4 linked regions of the Homo sapiens genome follow. The protein of the gene in region 1 purifies or fractionates together with the protein of each later gene. This does not show direct contact. Each region holds a gene or a part of one and is shown in the gene's direction. Other genes may lie near its edges.

Region 1 (7,037 bases):
ACCAAAATCAGAGCACAACTAAAGGAAATAGAGACATTAAAAACCCTTCAAAAAATTAATGAATCCAGGAGCTGGTTTTTTGAACGGATCAACAAAATTGATAGACCGCTAGCAAGACTAATAAAGATAAAAAGAGAGAAGAATCAAATAGACGCAATAAAAAATGATAAAAGGGATATCACCACCGATCCCACAGAAATACAAACTACCATCAGAGAATACTACAAACAGCTCTATGCAAATAAACTAGAAAATCTAGAAGAAATGGATAAGTTCCTCGACACATACACTCTCCCAAGACTAAACTAGGAAGAAGTTGAATCTCTTAATAGACCAATAACAGGAGCTGAAATTGTGGCAATAATCAATAGCTTACCAACCAAAAAGAGTCCAGGAGCAGATGGCTTCACAGCCGAATTCTAACAGAGGTACAAGGAGGAACTGGTACCATTCCTTCTGAAACTATTCCAATCAATAGAAAAAGAGGGAATCCTCCCTAACTCATTTTATGAGGCCAGCATCATCCTGATATGAAAGCCGGGCAGAGACACAACCAAAAAAGAGAATTTTAGACCAATATCCTTGATGAACATTGATGCAAAAATCCTCAATAAAATACTGGCAAACGGAATCCAGCAGCACATCAAAAAGCTTATCCACCATGATCAAGTGGGCTTCATCCCTGGGATGCAAGGCTGGTTCAATATATGCAAATCAATAAATGTAATCCAGCATATAAACAGAACCAAAGACAAAAACCACATGATTATCTCAATAGATGCAGACAGGCCTTTGACAAAATTCAATAACCCTTCATGCTAAAAACTCTCAATAAATTAGGTATTGATGGGACGTATCTCAAAATAATAAGAGCTATCTATGACAAACCCACAGCCAATATCATACTGAATGGGCAAAAACTGGAAGCATTCCCTTTGAAAACTGGCACAAGACAGGGATGCCCTCTCTCACCACTCCTATTCAACATAGTGTTGGAAGTTCTGGCCAGGGCAATTAGGCAGGAGAAGGAAATAAAGGGTATTCAATTAGGAAAAGAGGAAGTCAAATTGTCCGTGTTTGCAGATGACATGACTGTATACCTAGAAAACCCCATTGTCTCAGCCCAACATCTCCTTAAGCTGATAAGCAACTTCAGCAAAGTCTCAGGATACAAAATCAATGTACAAAAATCACAAGCATTCTTATACACCAGCAACAAACAGAGAGCCAAATCATGAGTGAACTCCCATTCACAATTGCTTCAAAGAGAATAAAATACCTAGGAATCCAACTTACAAGGGATGTGAAGGACCTCTTCAAGGAGAACTACAAACCACTGCTCAAGGAAATAAAAGAGGATACAAACAAATGGATGAACATTCCATGCTCATGCGTAGGAAGAATCAACATTGTGAAAATGGCCATACTGCCCAAGGTAATTTACAGATTCAATGCCATCCCCATCAAGCTACCAATGTCTTTCTTCATAGAATTGGAAAAAGCTACTTTAAAGTTCATATGGAACCAAAAAAGAGCCCACATCGCCAAGTCAATCCTAAGCCAAAAGAACAAAGCTGGAGGTATCACACTACCTGACTTCAAAGTATACTACAAGGCTACAGTAACCAAAACAGCATGGTACTGGTACCAAAACAGAGATATAGATCAATGGAATAGAACAGAGCCCTCAGAAATAACGCCACATATCTACAACTATCTGATCTTTGACAAACCTGAGAAAAACAAGCAATGGGGAAAGGATTCCCTATTTAATAAATGGTGCTGGGAAAACTGGCTAGCCATATGTAGAAAGCTGAAACTGGATCCCTTCCTTACACCTTATACAAAAATCAATTCAAGATGGATTAAAGACTTAAACGTTAGACCTAAAACCATAAAAACCCTAGAAGAAAACCTAAGCATTACCATTCAGGACATAGGCATGGGCAAGGACTTCATGTCTAAAACACCAAAAGCAATAGCAACCAAAGCCAAAATTGACAAATAGGATCTAATTAAAGAGCTTCTGCACAGCAAAAGAAACTACCATCAGAGTGAACAGGCAACCTACAAAATGGGAGAAAATTTTCACAACCTATTCATCTGACAAAGGGCTAATATCCAGAATCTACAATCAACTCAAGCAAATTTACAAGACAAAAACAAAGAACCCCATCAAAAAGTGGGCGAAGGACATGAACAGACACTTCTCAAAAGAAGACATTTATGCAGCCAAAACACACATGAAAAAATGCTCACCATCACTGGCCATCAGAGAAATGCAAATCAAAACCACAATGAGATACCATCTCACAGCAGTTAGAATGGCAATCATTAAAAAGTCAGGAAACAACAGGTGCTGGAGAGGCTGTGGAGAAACAGGAACACTTTTACACTGTTGGTGGCCTGTAAACCAGTACAACCATTGTGGAAGTCAGTGTGGCGATTCCTCAGGGATCTAGAACTAGAAATACCATTTGACCCAGCCATCCCATTACTGGGTATATACCCAAAGGACTATAAATCATGCTGCTGTAAAGACACAAGCACACGTATGTTTATTGCGGCATTATTCACAATAGCAAAGACCTGGAACCAACCCAAATGTCCAACAATGATAGACTGGATTAAGAAAATGTGGCACATATACACCATGTAATACTATGCAGCCATAAAAAATGATGAGTTCATGTCCTTTGTAGGGACATGGATGAAATTGGAAATCATCATTCTCAGTAAACTATCGCAAGAACAAAAAAGCAAACATCACATATTCTCACTCATAGGTGGGAATTGAACAATGGGAACACATGGACACAGGAAGGGGAACATCACACTCTGAGGTCTGTTGTGGGGTGGGGGGAGGGGGGAGGGATAGCATTGGGAGATATACCTAATGTTAGATGTCCAGTTGGTGGGTGCATCGCACCAGCATGGCACATGTATACATATGTAACTAACCTGCACATTGTGCACATGTACCCTAAAACTTATAATAATAACAAATAAATAAATAAACAAAACAAAACAAAAGTATCTTTCCACCTCTTGGATGTAGTACTGTCTCTGAAAAAAGGGGAAAGGCTTTGCTGGCGACAGCCTGAGTACTGACAATCTGAGTCTCATCTGGCTTCCCCCAATGTCATGGACTACTGTTCGGTGCCGAAGGCTTACTCAAAGACAGACGCATTGGAAGCCTCCAAAAGAAAACTTCATTCCGTTAAGTTCTACACATTGTGTTGCAGGGCTGAAAAAGCACGAGTGTCCGCACTATGACAAAAGAAAAGCGGCGTCTCCTCAAAACACCACCATGTTCCCCTATGAGTCTGGTGAGCCAAGACACTAAGAAACTGCAGGAAACGAGAGAGTTCTCGGGGTGGGGGTGTCCATGGATGAAGCACCGAACAAACTGGAGCCCGCAAGGTGAGTACGGGAAATGGGCTCTGTGGGGCCAGAGAGCTTCACCGACTTGGGGTGCGGGTACAGGGAGTCCACGGAGAGGCAAAGATTTGGGCTATCCGAGAGGACGCTCCCTCCCTGGGAGGGAGACCGGCAGGGCAGCTGGGAAGGGCAGAGACGGGAGCGTGATGGTGCGGCCGCCCTGGCCCCTCCAGGCCGGCGCCCAGCCACTCAACACCACCGAAGCCGCCGCTTACCTTTCGCGGGGTCACCTCCTCTCCTCGCCCGAGACGCCCCGCCCCGCTTCGCCGCCCCGCCTGCTAGAGAGAGCGGCGGAGGGCGCCCCGCCCGGCGCCACAGCGTCCCCTGTCTTCCGGAGGCTGCGGCGCAGCGGCGCGGGGCTGCGGGGACCCATCCAGTGCTAGCCTTTCCGGTTCTGAGGACCTCGCGCCCCTCCTTGGGGTCTGCGGGCTGAAGTGTGCAAGGGACGTTTTTGCTTTCTTCCCTTTTTGACCTTTAGTTTTCCACCTCCCAACTTCAAATTACGTTCCAGTTCGGTGTGTATGTTTGTATAAATAAAAGGAGACATCTCCTAGAAGTATGTTTATTTCATGAAAGTGGAAAGCATTCTGATTTGGGAAAGAAAGCTAGATCTGATTTCTTCCTACCCCTACTTTAGGGGAACAGTCATTTAAGTGTAGAGTTAATACTCTGCCATTACGTTAGGGCCTTGAGAGTCCAAGATGCAGGATGTATGCAGGTGCAGTTGAGACAAGAATAGATATAGGGATGCTGGTTTGCACATACTTTGCTGATGTTTAAGTTTGTTGGGATACACGTGAAAACTGATGTGGTTTGGCTCTGTGTCCCCACCCAAATCTCATATGGAATAATAGCCCCCTTGTGTTGAAGGAGGGGCCTGGTGAGAGGTCACTGAATCATGGGGCCGACTTCCCCCTTGCCATTCCCATGATGGAGTTCTCAGAAGATGTTTGTTTATAAGAGTGTAGCACTTCCCCCTTCACACTCTCTCTCTTTCTCTCTCTCTCCTGCACCACGGTAAGACGTGCTTGTTTCCTCTTCCACCATGATTGTAAGTTTCCTGAGGCCTCTGGAGCCATACCTCCTGTACAGCCTGTGGAACTGTGAGCTAATGAAACCTCTTTTCTTTATAAGTTACCCAGCCTCAGGTGGTTCTTTCTAGCAGTGTGAGAAGAGACTAATACAAAAACCAAAAATAAAATTCTAAGCACCACCATCACCAACCCACCCCTGAAAGGAATGGACCTCTGTCTTGGCCAAGGTAATCTCAAAAAAACCCTGAAAAATGAGTTCAGGCCCTGATGGGAAGGGGTGGGCGGTTGGATATGCCTCATTATACCTTCCTCCCGTTGGAGGTTAGACACAACTGACCAGCATTAACATTAAAACGGAGATCGTAAGACTGGTAAAATATACTGTAGCAATAAGAAAATTCCAACCTGACTCTGGAATAACATCACGTGACACATAGTGGGACCTGAAAGAAATAAAAATATGTTACCCCAAAATATATTTATTTGACTATTTTGAAATGGCCTCGCAAAGCTGTCTCTTGTTGGGGAAAACTTACATTCTATAGAAAATCTCTTTCCCTTACTAGATCTTTTTTTTTTTTTTTTTTGAGATGGAGTGTCGGAGTGTCACTCTGTCACCCAGGCTGGAGTGCAGTGGCATGATCTCGGCTCACTGCAACCTCCACCTCCTGGGTTCAAGCAATTCTCCTGCCTCATCCTCCCGAGTAGCTGGGACTACAGGTGTATGCCACCAAGCCTAGCTAATTTTTGCATTTTTAATAGAGACAGAGTTTCACCATATTGGTCAGGCTGGTCTCGAACTCCTGACCTCAGGCAATCCACCCACCTCGGCCTCCCAAAGTGCTGGGATTACAGGCGTGAGCCACTGTGCCTGGCCCCTTACTAGGTCTTTTCCAGAGAGTCTGACATCTTTTAAGGTCTGATAAGAGACATTCACATCTATTCTTTGAAGCCAGCTACCCGGAGGCTTTATCTACATAAGGAGAACCTTGGCTGCCACAACACCCCCGCTTACCTTAACTCCAGCTGGCTTCACATCTTCAGGCAGAGCTTAACTCTTTCAACTAATTGAAAATGTGAAAAATCTTTGAATTCATCTTTGACCTGGAAGCCCACCCCCACGCTGCTTTGAGATGGGCCAAACCAATGTATACCTTACATGTATTGATACATGTCTTTGCCTGTAACTTCCATTTCTCTAAAATGTATAAAATCAAGCTGTAGCCCGACCACCTTGGGCACATGTTCTCAGGACTGCCTGAGGCTGTGTCACAGGCCATGGTCCTTAACATTGGTGAAATAAACCTCTAAATTGATTGAGACCTATCTCATAGACTTTCTGGTTTACACAAGTTATATTAAAATGAACAGAATAGTTGGAATAGAAGGTACCAATATTTTGGCATGGGTTTATGTAAAGCTTTGGTAAATATGTTTCGAATTTAAAACTTTTTCTCCCAAGCCAAATTAACTTCACATTTGATTTGAGGTTTAATTTTTAAAAATTTTTAATATTTATGTGTATGTATTTATGGGGTACATGAGATATTTTGGTACAAGCATACAATGAATAATAATCACATCAGGGTAAATGGGGTATCCACCACATCGAGGATTTATCATTTATGTTACAAACATTCCAATTATACCCTTAGTTATTTTTAAATGTACAATCAACTATTGCTGACTGTAGTCACCGTGTTGTGCTATCAAATACTAGATCTTATTCATTTTATCTGACTATACTTTTGTACCCGCTAAAAATCCCCATTTCCCACTCCCCCCATCCCCACTACCCTTCCCAGCCTCTGGTAACCATCATTCTACTCTATTTTCATGAGTTCTTTTGTTTTAATTTGTATCTCCCACAAATAAGTGAGAACATGCAAAGTTTGTCTTCCTGTGCCTGGCTTATTTCACTGAAAATAATGTCCTCCGGTTCCATCTATGTGGTTGCAAATTGTTTTTTATGGCTGAATAGTACTCTGTTGTGTATATGTACCACATTTTCTTTATCCATTTATCTGTCGATGGACACTTAGATTGCATCTAAATTGGGTTATTGTGAATAGTGCTGCAGTAAACATGGGAGAGCAGATATCTTTTTGATGTGTTGATTTCCTTTCTTTTAGGTATATACCTGGCTTGAGGTTTAATTTTTAAAAGTTCATTGACAACTGGTATTACAAGGCAATCTTCTGACAAAATAAGTTAAATTTCAATTAAAAAGCTGTTACTGCAGTAGCTAAAAACAATTGGAAGGCTATAAAATATTATTATGTTGCATCCTAAGCAGACCCAAACTTTTTTCTTATCCCTTAGGGTTCTCAGTGATCTGTAACATGTCAAATATCACTATGGAAACAAAGTACTTTTACTGTCATGATCAATAGAAAGTGATCAGATGAAAGAATACAAGAAACATAAGCATGTGTAAGAAAAGAGCACAAGCTGTAGGTAAAGATAACAGAGAAAAGCCTGAAGGCCTTGCCCATTTCATGGATATGAATACAATGTGAATGATAGGACGTGTTTAGTCATTTTTGTTTATAATTCATTCCA
Region 2 (7,037 bases), on another chromosome or scaffold:
GAAGCTGGCAAGAGGGAAGGTAAGGTACCAGGCATTAAGCATGGGATGATGATAAAGAGTGCTAAATCAGAAAAGTTGGAAAAAGAGAATTTGTAAGCACAGAATTTACCATTGTATGTTAGTATGACAGTTACATTTTTATTTCAATTTGTCTCAAAATTTATTTTTGTGGCATTCAATAAAGTGATAATAGAAATCTCCATTTCGGCATTTGCCTATTATTCATAAGTTTCCATAGAAACATGGCCAGAACACCAAATATAAAGTATAGACACATTGAAAGTTTGCTTTTAATATCTTTATTTCAGACAATTTTATATCAGTCTCCCTGGAAACAGAAATTCTTACTGAGATGTAAAACATTTGGCTGGGCATGGTGGCTCACGCCTGTAATCCCAGCACTTCGGGAGGCTGAGGTGGGCGGATCACGAGGTCAGGAGTTCGAGAGCAGCCTGGCCAACATGGTGAAACCCCGTCTCTACTAAAAATACAAAAATTAGCTGGGTGTGGTGGCGGGCATCTGTAATCCCAGCTACTCAGGAGGCTAAGGCAGGAGAATCACTTGAACCCAGGAGGCAGAGGTTGCAGTGAGCTGAGATCGTGCCACTGCACTCTAGCCTGGACAGTGGAGCAAGACTCTGTCTCAAAACAAACAAACAAACAAAAAATTTAGCTTTTCTACAATGAAGAATTATTTTTGTTACTTAGACAAAAATCATACATAAATGACGCTCGGCTTTGTTCTTCAAGCTATTTCTTTTTTTTTTTTTTTTTTTTTTGACAGAGCTTCACTCTTGCCTAGGCTGGAGTGCAATGGCACAAACTTGGTTCAGTGCAACCTCTTCCTCCCGTGTTCAAGTGATTCTCCTGCCTCAGCCTCCCAAGTAGTTGGGATTACAGGCATATGCCACCATGCCCAGCTAATTTTTGTATTTTTAGTAGAGACAGGGTTTCAGTATGTTGGCCAGGCTGGTCTCGAACTCCTGACCTCAAGCGATCCAGCTGCCTTGGCCTCCCAAAGTGCTGGGATCATAGGTGTGAGCCACCGCGCCTGGCCTTTTTTTTTTTTTTGAGATGGAGTTTCGCTCTTGTTGCTCAGGCTGGAGTGGAATGGCGCGATCTCGGCTCACTGTAACCTCTGCGCCCAGAGTTCAAGCAGTTCTCCTGCTTCAGCCTCCTGAGTAGCTGGGATTACAGGTGTGTGCCACCACGCCCAGCTAATTTTTTGTGTTTTTAGTAGAGATGGTTTCACCATGTTGGCCAGGCTGGTCTGGAACTCCTGACCTCAGGTGATCCACCTGTCTCAACCTCCCAAAGTGCTGGGATTACAGGTGTGAGCCACCACGCCTGGTCTCGTCAAGCTAAGAGATGCTCCTAAGAACCTAGTAAACATTTCAGATAGACTCAAAGTATTTTCTACTACCTTGCCTTTATTTAACGGTATGTCTAACATAACTGACGGTAGTATCAGTAACACAAAATAAGATACTAAGATCTTATTGTCCGATTTTATTAGTACTCTTGACTTTTCATGGAGCATTTTATGTTCTGACGTTAGGAGCTTTGCTAATTTGCTGGCTAAAGGCGCTCTCTGAAGTGACTCTTTCTATTCTTTTCCACTGATGGGTGAAGGTAGGGAAAGAATTGGCAATGTAATGTGGAAAAACCTCTGAGCAACAGATCTTTCCTCTTTCCAGTAGCTATTTTAAGCCCTCTCTTTTTTTTTTTTTTTTGCTTTTTTGAATAATATGTTTGATGTAAAAGACATAGAGAATACAGAAAAGTCATTGATTATGGTATGCATATGAATATAACATTTTATTTTAGAAAAATGAGATCATTCTATATGAGCTGCTTCATAACTTACAGCAGTGAAATAATGTCATAAATTCCTGAATCACTGCTTGACATCCAGAGAGTGCTCCAAGATATCTTTCCATGCCAGGACACCCTGCTCTATCGCATGCCTTCTAGTAACTGCTTAATGTACCATCAGATGGTTGGAGTATCATTTATTTACCTATCCTTTATGATTGGGCATCTTTTCTAGTAACATCATACACAGTCTCATTACATTTGATTTCAAGGGTACCGATAAAAACATATTTTGATGACTGATGCCTTGTACCTCCCTGTAGAATTCAGTTAAATCTATGGGTTGAGTCATTTTGTAGTTAAGATATTTTAGTATTAAATGTTCTTATGGGCCAGGTGTGGTGGCTCACGCCTGTAATCCCAGCACTTTGGGAGGCCGAGGCGGGTGGATCACGAGGTCAGGAGATCGAGACCATCCTGGCTAACACGGTGAAACCCCGTCTCTACGAAAAATACAAAAAATTAGCCGGGCGTGGTGGCGGGCGCCTGTAGTCCCAGCTACTCGGGAGGCTGAGGCAGGAGAATGGTGTGAACCCAGGAGGCAGAGATTGCAGTGAGCCGAGATCACGCCACTGCACTCCAGCCTGGGTGACGGAGCGAGACTCCATCTCAAAAAAAAAAAAAAAAAAAGTTCTTATGTCAAATTGGAGTTAGCATTGACTTTTCCCTGGACTTTAGAATTCATCATTTAATATTTTTTGTTTCTTGGTAGCCTATCTTGCATCTTTAATTCTGAATAGCTACCACTTTAAAAGATTTGATGCTTACCACTTTAAAAGATTTGATTAGATGACAAATCAAGAGAGAATGTTAGAAGAAATATTAAAAGATGTGGGAAAACTGGGAGAAACTTGACTAGTTTTGGGTGTGCTGAAACAGATGTTTATTGAGTACCTTTAGGTGGCCAGGCTGTGTTCCAGATTTAGGGCAGACAGTGGTATACAAGACAGAACCTCATCCTAACTCTGATCCTTACATTCTGGAGGGAGCTAGGGATAGATAATACATGAATAATCAAGAATGTTAGGTGGTGAGGTGCTAGGGAGAAAAGTAAAATAGGGTCATGGATTGGGGAGGAGGACAGTTACATGGGGGTTGTGGGGATGAAAGATGGCTGCTCTCCTTACGTGACCTGTGAGCAGTCCTAAAGTGAGAAGGGAGCCTTGTGAGGATGGTTGGTGAGAGCCAGGGGTCCACACAGACAGTTACTTTGGAGTTCCTTGAATGGGAGCAAACTTGTTTTTGGCCAAGGACAGAAAGACACAGGGTGGCTGCGGAAGAGTGAAAAGGATGCCAGGACTATGGTGGGTTAAGGCCATGTGTGTATAGTGGGCCTTGGCAAAGAATATAGACTTTAGTTGTGATAGGAAACCATTGGAGGATTATAGCCTGGGAAATATTTTTAATTCTTTTTTTTTTTTTTTGAGATGGAATCTTCACTGTGTCGCCCAGGTTGAAGTACAGTGGCTCAATCTTGGCTCACTGCAACCTCCGCCTCCTGGGTTCAAGCGATTCTCCTGCCTCAGCCTCCCGAGTAGCTGGGGCTACAAGCACGTGCCACCACACCCGGCTCATTTTTTGTATTTTTAATAGAGATGGGGTTTCTCCGTGTTAGCCAGGATGGTCTCGATCTCCCAACCTCGTGATCCACCCACCCTGGCCTCCCAAGGTGCTGGGATTACAGGTGTGAGCCACCATGCCCGGCCAATATTTTTAATTGTTTAAGAAAAAGATCAGACGGTGGCTCATGCCTATAATCCCAGCAGTTTGGGAAGCAGAGGCAGGAGGATTGCTTGAGCCCAGGAGTGGGCTGGGACTAGCCTGGACAACGTGCTGAGACCCTGCCTCTACAAAAAGTAAATTAGCCAGGTGTGGTGGCACACACCCATAGTCCCAGCTACTCAAGAAGCTGAGGCAGGAGAATCTCCTGAGCCCAGGAAGTCAAGGCTGCATTGAGCTGTGATTGCTCCACTGCCCTCCAGCCTGGGTGACAGTGAGACTGTCTCAAAAAAAAAAAAAGATCAGACTAGCTGTAAAAGTAGGTAGCAAAGTGATGAATAGACAAGTCACAGAAAAATAAATGCAGATGATCCTTAAACACAGCTTCACACTTAAGAGAAATACAAACGAAAACTGTGCTGTGATTTCTCTTCTGTTGGGAGAAGATCCAAAAACTTGACAATACATTCTTTGGTGTGGCTGCGAAGAGTTGCATTCGTGTATTGCTGGTTAAAATGTAAGGTGGTTTGACTCCCTGAAGAGGAATTTGGCATAATCTCAAACATTGCAAATGCATTTAATCCAGAAATCCTACTTCAAGGAATTTATCCTGAAGGCATACCCCATAAATATGAAATAACATGTGCATAAGGTTTTGTTGCATTATTTTCAATAGCTAAATATTGGAAATAATATGTCTAGTAAGAAATTGGTAAAATAAACTGTTATATCCACACAGAGGAGAATTATGGAGCTGTTAAAAAAAAAAAAAACTCTCTTTACTGCTATGGAGTGATACCCAGATATCCAGGATATGTTACATGAAAAAAAACAAGGAGGAGAATGTACAGTAATGTATGAAATAATATGTATTTGCTTATTTAAAACAACAACACTGAAAGGAATTCTTGGTGGTGGTGTGTGACTGTTTTTCCCTTAATTTCAGAGGTAGCCAAAGTGCATATTTGCTGAAGATGTTATTTTGGTATGGGCTTTCCAATAAATGCTAACTGTTCACTTTTGCTTTTAATTTGTGAAAACTTTGTTTTATAATTTATTGTGCATTATGTGGTATATAGCAATTGCTTTTTTTTTTTTTTTTGAGATGGAGTCTAGTTCTGTTGCCCAGGCTGGAGTACAGTGGCACGAGCTCAGCTCACTGCAACCTCCACCTCCTGGGTTCCAGCAGTTCTAATGCCTCAGCCTCCTGAGTAGCTGGGACTACAGGCATGTGCCACCACGCCCAGCTAATTTTTATATTTTTAGTAGAGAAGGGGTTTCGCCATCTTGGCCAGGCTGGTCTTGAATTCCTGACCTCAGGTGATCTGCCCACCTCAGCCTCCCAAAATGCTGGGATTACAGGTGTGAGCTACTGCGCCCGGCTTATAGCAATTGCTCTTGCATTTCATTTTATTCTCACTATATTTTGAGTTAGGTAGTATAAGAATTATACTTGTTTTACATATGAGAAGACAGGCTTTGAGAGGTGTAAATTGAGTTTGCCAAGGTTTTTTAATTTGTTTTTTGTTTTTGAGATGGTCTTTCTCTGTTGCCGAGGCTGGAGTGCAGTGGTGTGATCATAGCTCACTGCAGCCTCCACTTCCTGGGCTCAAGTGATCCTCTTGCCTCAGCCTCCCAAGTAGCTGGGACTAAGAGTTTTCCAAGGTTTAAAAAGATAAGACTTGGTATGGTCAGGTGTGGTGGTGGCTCATGCCTGTACTACAGCACTTTGGGAGGCTGAGGTGGGTGGATCACGAGGTCAGGAGATGGAGACCATCCTGGCCAACATGGTGAAACCCCATCTCTAATAAAAATACAAAAATTAGTTGGGTGTGGTGGCACATGCCTGTAGTCCCAGCTGCCTGGGAGGCTGAAGCAGAAAAATCGCTTCAACTCAGGAGGCAGAGGTTGCAGTGAGCCGAGATCATGCCACTGCACTCCAGCCTGGGTGGTAGAGTGAGACTCCGTCTCAAAAAAAAAAAAAAAAAAAAAAGGCTTGGTAGATCAAGAATGTAAATTTCAGATATATGGCATATAGGATTAGAATTTATAGAATGACTCATGGGCTTCTTTGGATACTGCCTTTTTTCCACCTTTTTTTCAGTTAATTAAGCTTTAGAGTTAAAATAATAACATTGGATAATGAAAAATGAAATGGAGGTACTTGTAACCCAGACTTTTTTTTTTTTTTTCTTTTCTCTGTATGAGACAGGGTCACAACTCTGCCTGTCGCCCAGGCTGGAGCACAGTAGTGCCATTAGAGCTCACTGTAACCTCAAATCCCTGGGCTCAAGTTATCCTGCCACTTCAGCCTCCCAAATAGCTGGAACTACAGGCATGTGCCTCCACACCCAACTAATCTTTTAAAAAATTTTTGTAGAGATGGGGGTCTCACTATGTTATGTTGCCCAGGCTGGTCTTGAACTGTTCTCAAGTGATCCTTCTGCCTCAGCCTCCCAGAGTGCTGGGATTACAGGTGTGAGTCACTGCACTCCACCCAGAAATACTCTTAAAAGTCTAAAAAAGGAGTTAAGTGCTATTAAGAAATACACAAAGGGAGAAAGGTATACTATAGCATATGAAATGTCACAGCTCAGTCACGATCACTAAAACATAGATTGAGGCGTGAAGGTAAGTTAAAGCAAGACTGAACACTGACATAGAAGGAGGTAGAGCAGTGTTTCGGAAACCAGATTTAGGATTGTCAGAAGCTAGGAAAGCAAAAGCAAGGCATGAGTGAGCATGAGACTGGAGCTTGGCTGGTACTGTGTGACCTCAGATGAGGCAGGGCAGCTCAAGACCCATCAGGTAAGACTTACCTGATGGGTGGAACGTGTGAACTTAGATAAAATCTCAGCGTTTACATCATAGTTGAGAGGTTTGAAATGTTTGTGTTATGGACCGTAAGACTAATACAGTGTGCAGTATGGTAGAGCAGGTCAGTAAATGCAGTAAGCCTTTAAATAAACAGATGCCCAGCAGTTGGCCCAGAAACTGCCAATGTCTCCTGTTTAATTGGGATATATTGAAATCAATATGTTGAACTCAATCTCTTTCTCTGAAATATGCTGCTTCTGTCAGTTACTTTCTTGGTTGCTGCCCTCTCCCTTTAATATTTTGACAAGAAAAATAATTTCTTTACAGTTTACAATTGCATAATTTTAACACTTTTAGCCTTTAGTAATAATGCATTTCATTTATTCTAAGTTCCATATTTTTACATTTTTAATTAACATCTGTGAAATTGAGATGGCTGATAGATTCAAGGAGAAGCAGTGTTCAATGTCAGTGGATCTTACAGATTTCTTCCCCTGAGGGGGGTGTTTATATTAAGACCTGAGTTTAATTTTTTTTTGTCTTACTTGCCCCCCATCATACTATCATGCTTTCGAATTAAGTTGCAATTTAAATTGATAATACAAAACTGGTGGGTCTTAAAATAC
Region 3 (7,000 bases), on another chromosome or scaffold:
TGAACCTCATTATCCTCATCCATACCCAAAGCCAAGAGTGCCCTGCCCTGTCCCCACACCAGCCCCTGCCACACATTTTGGCCCTTTCGTGCGAACACCGCCAGGGGAGGCGCTTCACAGGATTGAACCAACAGGGACCGCTTGACAGATCCTAGAGCACATAGGAGGAGACATCAGCCCTCTGGACTGAGCCGGAGGAGCAGAACCTCACGCGATTCATCCATTCATTTGTTCAGCTAACATTTACCAGCGCCTGCTGCATGCCAGGCACTGTGCCAGGTGCAGGGGTACAGCAGGGACGTAGCATCCACTCACAGTGCTCACACCAGACGGGCAGGGGTTGACAGTAACACATGTTACTAAGTGCTGCACTGTGGAGAACACTAAAGCAGAAGGTGGGGGACACGAGATGGGGGTGGGGGACTGACACAGTGCCATGCAGAAGTGCTGGGTGAGTGGTGTGGCTGAGCAGGGGAGAGACAGCAGGTGCAAAGGCGCTGAGCAGACACTCCCTGGCCCCTGGAGGCCCCACCAGAGTGGCTGGAACCTGGTGCAGGAGTGTGGGTGGGGTGTCAGGGCCAGGTCCTGCAGGACTCAGTGGGCCCCAATGAGGCAGGAAGACCTTGGCAGGGTTGGAGCAGAGAAGAGACTGGAGCTGCCCTCCCAGGAGGAGCTAATCTACACTTTGAAAAGATCTCTCTGCTGAGGTGGGAAAATAGGCTAGGGTGGGGTAAGGCTGGGGGCCATGAGGGGCTACTGCAACATCCCAGGCAGAGAGGCTGCTGACCCAGGGGTGGGAGCTCTGGAGGCCCTGAGAAATGCAGGTGGGAGATTTGTTTTTTTAAAGCTGCAGCTTTTAAAGGACAGCTGCAGTTTTGGTCTGAACCAGTAGAAAGATGGAGCTGGTATTGGCTGAGAAGCAAGATACAGAAAAACCCATTCTGGAGAGGTGGGGAATTAGGAGGTGGGTCTGAGACCTGGAGAGCCATTGATGGGCACATGTGGCCAGAGGGAGAGCAAGGCTGGAGGTGGCAACCTGGAGCCCCTGGCACTGAGGTGTGTGGCAGGCCGGGGACCACGTGAGGTCACTTAGGGATCAAGGGTAGGTAGGATCAGAAGAGGCTGAGCTGGGCTCCTGGGCCTCCACTGTGGGGAGGATGAGTTGAGAAGCATCGAGAAAGAGAGATTGAGGATTGACGGGCAAGTGAGGTGGAAGCACAGTCACAGTGGCGCCTCGGGAGGCTGGAGAAGAGCGGGTCCCAGAGAGCAGGTCCCCTGTGTCAAGCAGGCAGGGCATGCCCAGGGACTGAGCAATGCAGGCACAGCTGGCCACATGATTTTGGGGGCCCCCATTTGAAAATTATTAAGGGCCTGACATGATGGCGCACACCTGTAATCCTATACTATGGGAGACTGAGGTAGGAGGATCACTTGAAGTCAGGAGTTTGAGACCAGCCTGAGCAACATGTAAGAGCCTGTCTCTACAAAAGTAAAACTAAAATTATGCATTCCAGAACAGCAACAGCAGAGCATTAAAACTGTATGGATGCCCAAGTGAGTGCCCAGGAAGCTGGCTGGTCACAGGGACCTCAAGGATAATATTGGGGATGTAGTGGCCCCTGTGGAGAAGGAAGGCCTGGAGGGTGGGCCCGCAACCTGCCTGCTGCCCAGTCCCCACAGCATTTCTCCTCCCTTCCCTGAGTGGGCGGGTGGGTTGCGTTGGACTTTCAGGGCCGCTGGAGTCAGTCACACCCAGCCTGTGAGCTTCACCTTGGCACCATGGCCCAGGGAACCCAAAGTGAAAACTGCAGCAGGCAATTGCCTGCTGCAATTCTTCACTAAATGTCTTGCTTCTTGCCCCTTGGTCTGTGGACCCTTGGGCAAGAGGCAGCAGGAGGCACATCTTGAGGTTGAGGTTTAGATGGTCCCATCAGCAGGCCCTGGACCTACATGGCCACAGCTTCACACAGCAATGGCTTCTTTGCGTTCATCTCTTTTCCAAAGGAAGCTGCCACATCACAGAGTTTTGAGTTATTTGCTTCTAAATTAAGGTATAACTCTCTTTTAGAGACGTCCCTGGAGAATCCATCAAAAAGTGCTAAGAAGCGAGACTGTTAAAAGCCACAGTGCAGGGAGGGGCCTTACACATAGTGTCAAGCCCGGGGGTGTTCCTTCTAGCAGCCTCCAACCAGAAACACACCCCGTCCCCGAGGGCTCAGCCAGGCCTCTCATGGCCATGGGGGACCGTGGTTGTGGTTAGAGCAAACCTTTCAGGAGACCCTTGGCCCCTGGGATGGAGAGCTGCCAGGACAGAGGTCCCTTTGTGAGGTCTGCCCCTGTGAGTCACGGAGGCCAAGGTCCTTTGTGAGGTCTGCCCCTGTGAGGTCTGCTCCTTTGTGAGGTCTGCCCCTGTGAGTCATGGAGGCCAAGGTCCTCTGAGGTGTGGAGAGTGGACCTCATGTGCCCAGTGCCTTAGTAGGTCTGGGCAGCCCCGCATCTGGGCAGCATGGTCCCTCTCACCCTGGTTGGTCATAGGAAGGGTGGCTGAGGAGGAGGCTGTGCTGGAGGCTGGCATGGCAGTGAGGGCTGGCTCTTAGGCTGTGGCCCTGCTCCAGACAGGGCTGGTGGGGCCTCTATGTAGAACAGCGCCATGTTCCTGACCATGTTTCCTATGCCCTTTCCTGCTGCTATTTTTTTCCCCTTAGCACTCGCCACAGCGTGACCTGCTCCCTATTTGATTCATTCATCGTATGTGTTTGTGTAAGCTCCATGAGGGCAGGGACGTTGCGGAGTCACCATTGAGAATCGCCACCCAGGGAGTCGCTGTGGAGGGACTGAATATTCGCAGACAGTCATGCCTCAGTGGCCCTGTCCAGCCCCTTTTGCCCTAGGGCTGAGCTGTGTGCTCGTGCGCTGCAGAACCCCTGCTCCAGCTCAACCCTCTGCTCCTAAGAGGTTGTACCTTTGGGTCCCCAGAGATGTGTCTCTGGGCCTCAGGTTTGGCCACCAAACACAAACCACCCTCAGGTGGATGCTACCAGCTGGGCCCCGTCAGGCCCAACTGTGGGTTACTCTCAAGCCAGAGGCAGGTGGACAGATGCCTCGGGCTGACGCCGGGCCACTCAGTGATGCAATGTGACTCAGTGGGGCCTTTGTCAGACACGGGGATTCACAGAGTGATGACCTTCAGAGGCATGTCTATGGAAAACTGTCCTAAGGGGATGAGCCAAGACCCTGAAGGTAGTAAAGGAACATGATGATGGTAGAGTGGCCTTTCCAGGTGGCCCCTGTGCCCCAAGATCAAGGAGTGGCCTCTCAGGCCAGTAGAGGAGCTCAGGGCAGGGGAAGGCACCAGGCCTGGGTAGAAGTCCAGCTCTGCCTGTGATGGTGACCCTGCGAATGCTTTCCACTCTCTGGGCCTTCCTTGCCTTTGAGTTGGAAGCTCTGGGCTGGGTCAAGTGTACAGATAGTTTCCTTCCTTATCTCAACTCTGGAGTGACCGTCCAAAGCATGCTGTGCTGAAGAGGATTCTAAGGCTGTGCTGCAGCCCAGAGGGAAAGAGTCATGGTCGATTAGTGATGTCTGCAGCGGGCACGGGAGGCAGGATTTAGATGAGCTTGCCAGTGACTGGTGAACCTCACCACTGTACCCCCTCCTATCTAGCAGCTTTAACCCACCCTATCTCTCCTTACATGCCCCTTCCTTAGTGACACTGATGCTAACCCCTTATTGGGAAGGACTGGCCTCCGTCTTCCTGAGTCCCATGAGCAGCTCAGGTCATTGCTTGCTGACTGTCTCTTCTCTCATTTGATGCCTCACTCCCTGTAGTGACCTCAGGGTCCAACCCCATGCTTCGTTCATGGCAGCCTCTTTCTGTACACTGAAGAATGAATAAGTGAATGAGTGGTAGAGACTCAACCACTCTACAAGGCCGGGAGCCTCCTCTTGGATGTACACCTGATGTTGATCTCTGTTCCAGCAAGGAGCCCCTAGAAGCCTTCTTGGAATTGGGAGGCTGGATGGCCACGGAAACAAGGTGCTAAACCGTGTGGTTTCAGCTCCAGGTGTTGCAGGAGTGGGGTCAGCAAGGGAGGAGGGGGCAAGGTGACTAAGGAGGGCTGAGGCATGTAAAGTACCAGGCTCTGTGTTTGTGGGGCCCGGTGGTCCTGTCTGACCTTGGCTATGGAGCAGCTAATCAGGCTTCCCCAGAGGCAAAGCTGGGAAAACCTTCCAAGCTGCCAAGAGGGGCCTTCTGAAGACCCTTCTGACTATGGGTGGGAGAACTTGGCACCTACAGCCTTCACCCTGACCCCAGCAGGCCCTGACCCCCTGTGAACTGGTGGTACCTCACCCCTACTCCTCTTGCACCCCCACACTAGTGGCCCTACCCCTAACTGTGGCCAGGCCAGGGGAGGAGCAACTCCACCATGAGGGCTTGGCCCTCATGCCTCCTCCTGCCCAGCTCTGCATGGCATGTCCCTCTGGCCTTAGCTGCCCCAGCTGCATGTGGCCTCAGGCCAGCCCCACCCAGCCCTCTTGCTTCCTGTGGCCCTGTAGAGTGGCTACCAGGACCCCTGCTGGTGAGGGCGGGTGCGGGTGGCCTGTCTCCGAGCTGGGCTTTCCTCCAGCATGGTCACCCCCTCACCCGCTCAGTTACCTCTGATATGCTGTGCAAACATATTTCTCGATGAAATGCTGGGAAGAAAAATAATTAGAGTGTTGCCTCCATTATCCAATTTCGGATTAATCAAACTCTCTTTGTCCTCGGCCAAAATCTATTCATTTCCCTTAAACACTGGGCCAGTGCCAGGCATTGATTTCCTCTATGATAACACCACGCACGCAAGCACAGCCATGCCCAGCCTTGCCCCACCCCGTGGCTGGGACACAGAGGCACTGGTGGGGCTGCCCTTGTCCCCCCAACACTGCCCACCTCCTCCAAGGAGTCTCCTGGCCACACTGACACCCCCATCTCTGTCGTGGCTCCTGGAGTGCTTGGCCTCAGTCTCCAGTGTGTTTGTCTTGCCACGCTGGCTGTTCTGGGGCTCTCCCTCCTCCCAGGATGGTGTGGAATGGATAGAGGAGGTGTGGAGGGTGTGGCCACTGCGGTCCCCAGGGACCACAGGGAATGGGCTGCAGCCCCAGGCTCTGGGTGGGCCAGGGTTTGGGGGATTATCCCCATCACTGGCACAGGAAGAAGGCCAAGGGTGAGGGCCAGGGCTTCTAAGGGGGCTGAGGGGCCATGCAATGTATGTGGGGTGGGAGCACACTTGCAGGGGTAGCAACAGAAGCCCAGCCCCAAAGGGCTTACAAGATGAGGGGACATCCTGGCTCCCGGGCCTGAGGGCTTAGTCGTGGGGCAGCATCAGGATCGGCCAAGTCCAGGTGGGCGGGGGCTGTGCGTCTACCCGTGTCCACCCAGGGAAGGCCACGGGCCTTTCCAGAAGACCTCCCAGAAGTCCCCAACTATCCCCTCCGTGAGCCACGTTGACCGATTCCTCACTCAGTCACTACGAGGGCCTGGGATTGATTTATTGGCACCTGCTTGGTGCTAGGTCCATGTGGGCACATGGGATACATCAATGAACAAACAGACCAACAGTCCCTGCCCTATGGCACAGTGGGAAAGAGGTGGGCGATAAACACTCTAAGTAAATTATACAGTGTGCTAGAAAGGGACCATGCTTGGGGCAAGGCAGCACACGTGGTGTGGCTGTGTGCGAATATGGGGGTCATTTTCCATCGTAAATAGGATGGGCAGGGAGGCCTCCTAAGGAAGGGACATCTGAGCCATTGGATGGGGAGAGGGCGCGGAAGCGAAGTCCACTTGGCTTTCTGGACAAAGAGTTTTCCAGGAGGAAGGAACAGCCAGTGCACAGGCCCTGAGTTAAGAGTGAGGGATGGTGCTAGAGAGGCAGCTAGAGGCAGCATGGCAGGAGTGGGGGAGGGGGAGCATGGGCGTGGGAGTCAGAGAGGCCAGGCATTGCACAGCCCTGGTGCCCTGGCTGGACTTTGACTCGGGGTCTGCCCATGTCAAGCAAGCGTCGGGAGCAAACATGAGAAGGTTTCAAGCACAAGTGAGACATACTCTGCCTCATTTTTACAAGGATGCCCCTGGCTGCTGGTGGAGCACAGGGCACAGGGGGCTGGAGACAGCAAGACCAGAGAAGTCATACTGCTGCAAAACAGATGAGAGGCTGGGGCTGGCTAGCGGGAGTGAGTGGTAGAATTCTGGACAGTCAGGGCAATTAAGGGTTCCCCTGAGGCTGGCTGGGTCCAGCCACAACCTGTGGTGCCAGCCTCAGTTCTCAAGGAAAGGGACGCAGGGAAGGCGTGCTGGGCATGTAGTGGACACCACTCATGCCCCTAGGTCCCCAAGGTAGGGGATGGGATTGTGGGATGCCACACATGGAGGCAGAGGGCAGGAGGTTGCAGGGCCTCAAAGACCCAGAAGGTGAAATCAGATTCCCCACTCAAGTGAGGGTTTGATGGAGTCAGCAGTTTCCTTCCCTGGGGAAACTGGGGAGCCAGGAGCCTGGGGCTACGGCTCTCTCCAAGGCAGCAACCTCTTTGATTTGGCTCTTAATGAAGGCCCCACTTCTTCTCTGCTGTCATGGCCACCCTCTCCTCCATAGGTGGAACCTTTGCATATTGATTTATTTATTTACTCCTGGCCCAGAGAAATATCTGGCTTGATTTCCTCCTGAGTCAGTGTTCCTCAGGCGACACTATCACCCTTTGTCTGGTCAGCCGTGGTGGCTGTGGGCCAAAAGACAGGACAGGTGGCTGAGGGTGTCCAGAGCCAGGACAGCACAGGGTTACAGGGAAGGGCCTCCCTGTTCATCTCATCTCCCCGGTCATCTCATCTCCCCTTCCTTTAGCAGAAGGACACTGGGAGGCCCAGCCGGGGCATAGCCTGGGGTTGTCTGTAGGATGGGGACACTGTGTTCACTAACCGTAGTCCTTCCTCCCATCTGCTCGGACTATGGCTTCAGGATAG
Region 4 (7,037 bases), on another chromosome or scaffold:
AAACCTGAAAAGAAACTGCCAGACCTTTTCCCAACATGGTTATACCATTTTACAGTCTCACCAGCAAAGAATACAAGTATGAGATTCCAGATACTACAGCCCTGTCTTTCCTATCCTAAAGTCAAGAGCATGGTTTGACTAGTGTTCTTCTGGGGCCAGAGGGAATCTGAGGCAGTGGGGAACATGTTTTTATAGGTGGAGGGGCCATAGGAAGTCCCTGACTCTGCCTGAAAATGGGTTTAAACTTAAATCATTGCAGACGATCAGATGAATATTTTATTTTTAGAGATTTTCAGAGAAGGGAATTCCATAGGGGAATGTACCCTTGGTTGTGAAAGAAGATTGATTGAGTGCTTTCTATAAAAAGAAAAATAACCCCAAGCCCCACAGAATTTTACTAAGCTTCTGCCTAGAAACTCCCGGGGGATTTCTGGTCTATTGGTAGGGTTGATATTAACTTGGTGGAGAGTCCCCTTGGATTTCACCGGCTTGGTCAGCCGGCTACTGAAAGGGGTTGTGTTTATTTTGAGGGGCAGGTCAGATTTGGCTTTGTTAAGACTCAGAGAATGACTCTCTTGTGAAAGTGATCTGGCCTCTCAGTGAGAAACATGGCCTGTCAACACCCCTCTTATTGTCCTGACTGGGAAAATGGGCCTGTGCCCCTCGGGTCCCCTAATAACTTAGTCCCTCTCTGTGGTGCCAACAGCCAAAGCTTGCCTTGGCTGATCTAGGAAACGGGAAGTGAACTTTTCTGTCTGAGTGGGACCCCAGGATGCATGTTTTGCATCCCATCAAGGTGTCCCAGGGCTGACCAAGCTTTGCAGGAGTCAGATGGCAGACAGCTCAGTCTTGAGACATTGCACTGTGTTTGGGGACTGTTCCCTCCTCCTTAAAAGCCTAGCGCAGTGCCTGCCAGAGGGTAGGGACACAGTAAACATTGGCTGAGTGATTTCGTGACTCGTGATACCCATCTGGGTGATCGCCTCTCTGGAGGTTGACAGTGGGTGTCAAGATGTCAGGGCCCCAGGATGTATTTTACTCGAGGGCACTTTACCATGGCTTGGAAAACACATTCAAAGGGTTTGGGCCTAGGAAAATTTTGTTCAGTGTAAACTTTCATTGTATTAACACTGTTCTCTTTATTACTGATTTTAATATTGTTAATAAAATACAAATAATTATAGCTGCCACTTGCTGAGTGCTTACCCTTTGCCAGGCACTGTTGTACATTTTGCACGCATTATCTGAATTTAATCCTCATGAGAGGCGAGTACTTATATTATCTTCACTTCAGCCCTGAGGAAATTGAAGCTTGCAAGGTTAACTTTCCCTAAGTTCACGTTTTCATTTTTCTAAGACCTTAAGGGAAGAGACTGTGACATTCTGGTTTTTTGAAGGCAAAATCTGTCTACAATCACGGATTTCCAAATACACAAAGCCATATTATAATAGAAATGTAAATTAGATAATCAGAACAGCGTTACAGGAAATGATACACTGCAATCATTTTCTTTAGTTTTTTTTTGTTGTTGTTTGTTTGTTTTCATTTTGTCTTAAGCTTACTGAGTTTGGCACAGCCAGGGGCTTATACTAATTTTGATGATAATTTAAAATATTATTGGTTGATTAGGATTACAATTTTATTGAAGGAACAGAAAGACGTTGCCAGCTGAACTGTTCAATACAGTAGCCACTAGTTACATGTGGCTATTTACATTTAAATGTAATGAATTAAAAGAAAAGAAAATTTAAAATTCAGTCCTTCCGTCTCACTCACCGCATTTCAAGTGGCCCAGAGCCACGTGTGGTTAGTGGCTACTGAATTGGATAGCACAGATAGTAGTTTCATCATTGCTGAAAGTTCTGTTTGACAGTGCTGCTCTGTGGTGTTTTTTTTTTACCCTTCAGTTTAAGAATTGGTAACACACTTGGCTAGGGCTTCTGCTATTTTTCACTGACAAAGGGATACATTTAGCCAGATGTTGCTTTTGTGTTTACCTTTTAAAGGGGTGTGTGTGTGTGTGTGTGTGTGTGTGCGTGCGTGTGATCTTTCCTTCCATTCACATTCAGTTTTTGACATACGTTTGAATCTCCCTTTTCTCCTGGGCCCCAAAGGGGCTTTCATTATTAGCATTGCATGTTTTATCAAGACACTTTCTCATAAAAAATTGGTACAGCAGGCAAGCGATAGCCACTGCTTGAACCCGGCTAATTCCTTGCTCTCCAAATAAGAATTCAGTTCAGCTTTTAAATATGCAATTGTGTGACTTACTCCCTACCTGGGCTGAATTCAGGAGGAAAAATCACTCTCAGTGGGCCAGAACCAAAGAGCTGGAAAATCAGGTGACATTCTGCAGTGATGGCTCCCTGCCAGGACTGAGATGGAGGAGACACCATTTGGGGTACTTGAAAGCTTCGTTTAGAGTTTTCCTGGATTTGACCTGCCTCCGGGGTGCAGGGATTGATGGAGAAGGCTGGCAGCTTTGATGTCCCAGTTACATGGGACAGTGGAGGGCTGGTACTGTGGCTGTCACCTCTGCTGGGGTGTACAGTACTTCAGAACCAGCCTCACAGGAGAGAGGAAGCCACTCCTCAGGTGTCTGCAAGCAGCAAGTCCAGCCAGAAGTGGGAAATCAACATAAGCTATGCTTGGCTCAGTTGTTTGATGCCGACAAACTCTTATGCTACTTTAAGATCCCGTATTGGAGGTTTCCACACTTCTTCAACCAGGAAGCCAGATGCACCTCACTGACAACTTTCTCTGGCGTTTACACCTGAAATGTCCCGTCGTGTTGTTCCATAGGCAGACCTCCTTGAGGGTTACAATTTATTCTTTACGGGGGCCTATCAGCTTTCATATGTGTGCATGTGTGTGTGTATATATATGTGTGTATGTGTGTGTGTGTGTATGTATGTATGTATGTGCGTTTGTGTGTGTTTGTGTGTATGTGAGTGTATGTGTGTGTTTGTGTGTATGTGAGTGTGCATGTATGTGTGTATGTGTTTGTGTGTATGTGTGTATGTGTATGTATGTGTGTGTATGTGTGTGTTTATGTGCATTGTGTGTGTATGTATGTGCGTGTTTGTGGATGTGTGCATGTGTGTGTGTATGTGTGTGTGTGTGTGTGTGTGTTTTGAAACTCCCTACTTTGCCTTTTACCCTTTGTCCTGAGGAATCCTTCAAGTTTTATGGAATAGCGCTAAAGTTCCTCAGATTTGGGGGAACTGTTGTAATAGATTTTACTCAGAAAGTTGGGTAAGAGATTTGGTTAATCATAGACTCTGGTTAATGGAACCTGATCATATCATGTATTAGCAAATTTTGGAAATATAAAGCACAAGAAATCAGGTTGTTTATTTAAACACTTCTTTAATTTAGAGAGGTCTTTTGGGATTTTCTGGTGTCTTATGATACCTTATAAGTGCCCTTTTCAGTGTGGCATAATCATGACTATAGGCCAGAGTAGGTCAAAAGGTGTCTTCATAATGAGCAACAAGTAATCCCAGTAGAGTACTAAAACGGTTAATATTTATACTGCTCTTTCTATGTGTCTGAGCTCTTCTGAGCCCTGTTAAATAGTAACTCACCCTACCTTATTTAGTCCTCACCCTAGAAGTAGATATTGCAGTTGTCCCCATTTTACAGATGAGAAAACTGAGGTTAAATGGCTTCCTTGAGGTCACACAGGTAGGAAATAAGGGCAGCAGGATTTGAACCTAGTCAGTCTGGTTCCAGAGCCTGTATGACCAACCCCTGTGCTGTACTGTTAAGAAAGTGAATTTGAGAGCCACAGATGGAATATTCCAAATGCCCTTTACCATCCTGTACCAGATAAGTGTCTTTCCTATTCCCGAAAGATGCTGCTAAGTAGGTATTTATTGTGCATCTGTTATGGGCAGGGCATTGGAATAGCTGCTGTTGGGGATGAAGAAGACCCGCTTGCTGCCTTCCAGAAATTTACTGTCATGTAGGGAGATGAGGCATTACCAAGAGCTGTGGAGCTCTCCTCTGAACTCGAAATGGTACATCCAGCGGCCTACTGCATACCTCTGCTTGGGTGGAGTTAACATGGCTAACTCCTGGCTTCTTCTACCCATCTCAGAAGATGGCCACTCCAGCCTTGCAGGTGCTGGTGACCAACCCTAGAGGTGTCTTGGATGCCCTCTTTTGCTCATCCCCTTTTTCCAAATCATCAGTCAATCCTGTTTTCTGCCTTCAAAACATATACAGAATTTGACCACTGCTCACACCTCTACTTACTGTCATCTGGGTTCCCTGCTGTCATGGTCAGTCATGGCCAGAGTAATTGATGTCTTCTTTCAGCTCGAAACCTTCCAGAGGCTTCCAACTCAGTCAGGGTAAAGCTGAAGTGCTCACGGCCCGGCCAGGCCTACGCTCTGTCTCCCCAGCCCTGTTTGACTTCACCCTGAGGTCTGCTCAGCCTCCCAGGGGCCCCACACCCCAGCTTGTTTGCACCTGCCACTGCCTTGCCTAGCCCACCCTCCCCCTTATCCCATGGCTCGCTCTGTGGCCTTCCTCATGATTTTGCTTAAACGTCACCTTCTGGGTGTGGCCTTTCCCAATCCCCGTATTTAAAACACTATACCTCCTCCTGTGATTGCTATCCCTCCCCCCTGCATTGTTGTTTTCTAGTTGGCATACTTTAAAAATGGGATTTTGTGTATTATTTTTATTTGTTTGTCTATTGCCTGTTTCTCGGCTTCTGAAGGTAAGGTCCATGAGGGCAGGCGTGCTCTTTTATTGTGTGAATCTCTTTTGTTTTACTTTGGTATCACTGGCATTTAGAACAGGGCCTTGCACATAGTAAGTGCTCATTACTTATTTATTGGATGAATCAATGGCCTAGAGTGGCAATCCTGTTAGAGCTCAGCCTTGAAGGAGTGTGATGGTTAATTTTATGTCATTTTTTCCTAGGCTACGGTGCCTAGTTTTTGGCCAAACACCAGTCTGGGTATTGCTGTGAGTTATTTTTTAGGCATGATGAACTTTGAAATCAGAAGACTTGGAGTAAAGCAGATCACCCTCCATCATGTGGGTGGACCTCATCCATTCAGTTGAAAGCCTTAAGAAAAAATACTGAGATCCACAAGAAGGAACTCTGACTCCAGACCGCCTTTGGATTCAAGATTGCAACATCAACTATTCTCTGGGTTTCCAGCCTTCTGGCCTGCCCTGAAGATTTTAAACTTGTCAGCCCCCCAATTTCATGAGCTAATTCCTTATAATAAATACCTCTATTTGTCTCTCTCTATCTGGGTACACACACACACACATCTGACTGGTTTTGTTTCTCTGGAGAACCCTGACTAATAGAGAAGATGAGAGGTACGGGAAAGGAATGTCAGGTGGAGGTCCACTGGAGGAAAAGGGTGGTGCCTGGAGAGTTCTGAGGGTGTACAAAAGATTGCAGTAGCTTAGCCTGACTTCACTCTAGGGTCAACTGTGAAAGGAAACAATGGGAGGTAGGACTGGAAAGGAGGGAGGATGGAGGGAGATTGAGGCTGAGGACTCCAAGCTGCACAGCAGATGTGATTATGCTCTTTGAGCCACTTGTGTGGTGTAAAATGGTTAATGTGGGAAAAGCTGGAGATAGGAATTAGATGGATGAGGGGGAGGCAGATTCCAGGAAAGCGTTGGTAGCTGTTGCGATGGCAGATTGGTTTGGAGAATAAAGTGGAGGAATGGATAGCATCCACCAGCTCTGGATGGGCCAATGTCAGGGTGAGGATGGTGGCGGGAGCAGGCTGATACTGGGGTTTTGGGCCTGGATGTTGGGAGGGCAGTGGTACCACCCAGAGACGAGAAATGCAGGAGGAAGAGCAAGCTTGTTGGGCAAGGTGCTGCATTCTGTGGGGCATATTCTTCCAGAAGTGCTGAGAAAGTCTCAGGTGAAGAGAGAAAGTTCCAGGTGGAGATGTTGAAACAGTTCTTGGAGATGTCTGCCTGGAGCTGGAGAGAAGACAGGCAGGCTGGGAAGGGAACTGGGGAGCTCTTGCCTGGAGCAGGTCAAGTTAGGGCAAGAGAGGGAGTGTGAGTGCTAAGGGAGAGACAATAGCATGTAAGTAACTTTTTTGAGCATACATAATACTATGTATTGGTGGTTCCCAAATTCTGTGCTAAGATACCGCAAGGCACTGCAGCAAAGGCACAGGGTGGCCAAGGGATATTTCACATCTTTGAGGGAAATGCAGCAATACTTAACATCTGTCAGATACCACGCTAACTACTAGCTTGAGGCACTTCACAATATCAACATCTGACAGTACCATATTACTCTTGATGATGTCATATCTTTACAAGCTACATTTTGGGTAGTTGCTAAGAAAATCAGTGTGGAACTGAAAATGAGGGTGGTGGTGTTCAGTGTGGTTCCAAGTTTTGAGAAGTTGCTCAGTGTCCAACAGATGCACACATCCCATTAGCAAGTAATTGTGGTTAGTTAAGAATGAAAGAAAAAATATTTCTTCTTTCAGTTTATGTGTGCTATTTTTCTGAAAGGCTGCTGTTGTTAGGCTGTGAATAAGTATTAAGTTGTTTGGACCTAACTACTTAATAAAACGAACTATTGGGTATTTTTTTTTTAGTCTAGGGCATGCCATTAAAAAATGTACAGAGAAACTAAGGGCACTGTGAACGGAGAAATCCTCAGAATCTCTGCCATATGTTGTTCTGGGTGTTATATATAGATTGTAAAAGAGTACACGCAGGGATAGAAAGATAGGGAGACAGGGAATGGCATGAGGACTGTGTCCAAGATGTCTATTTATCCAAAAATAAACTATCTGAAGCAAATAAGGTAAAAATGTAAGCACTTGTGAAATCCAGGTGGTGGATCCATGGACATCTCATTTTCTGTACTTTTCCATATGTTTGAAGTGGTTTATAATTAAAATAATTTTGGAAAAGTGAGGCAAGAGGATGGAGGAGGACAGAAATGTAGGAGGTGCCTGTGCTTGCCTGGGAGGATGGCAGAGGAGACTGGGAAGGGGTGTCTGAGGTAGAAAGAGATTCAAGA

What was found.
Region 2: the proteins of GJB7 (region 1) and CCNYL1 purify together in Homo sapiens (affinity purification with mass spectrometry; 2 studies listed by BioGRID and IntAct, with this or other methods). This does not show direct contact.
Region 3: the proteins of GJB7 (region 1) and GNAZ purify together in Homo sapiens (affinity purification with mass spectrometry; 2 studies listed by BioGRID and IntAct, with this or other methods). This does not show direct contact.
Region 4: the proteins of GJB7 (region 1) and RFTN1 purify together in Homo sapiens (affinity purification with mass spectrometry; 2 studies listed by BioGRID and IntAct, with this or other methods). This does not show direct contact.

Annotation. Positions count from the first base shown.
Region 1 is NC_000006.12:87,319,252-87,326,288, reverse strand, and holds part of GJB7 (gap junction beta-7 protein), read left to right. Parts: intron 1-3,245; 5' UTR 3,246-3,423; intron 3,424-3,656; exon of another isoform or gene 3,657-3,701; intron 3,702-7,037.
Region 2 is NC_000002.12:207,714,623-207,721,659, forward strand, and holds part of CCNYL1 (cyclin-Y-like protein 1), read left to right. Parts: intron 1-7,037. UniProt on the Homo sapiens protein: Key regulator of Wnt signaling implicated in various biological processes including male fertility, embryonic neurogenesis and cortex development. Activates the cyclin-dependent kinase CDK16, and promotes sperm maturation.
Region 3 is NC_000022.11:23,073,519-23,080,518, forward strand, and holds part of GNAZ (guanine nucleotide-binding protein G(z) subunit alpha), read left to right. Parts: intron 1-7,000. UniProt on the Homo sapiens protein: Guanine nucleotide-binding proteins (G proteins) are involved as modulators or transducers in various transmembrane signaling systems.
Region 4 is NC_000003.12:16,503,696-16,510,732, reverse strand, and holds part of RFTN1 (raftlin), read left to right. Parts: intron 1-7,037. UniProt on the Homo sapiens protein: Involved in protein trafficking via association with clathrin and AP2 complex.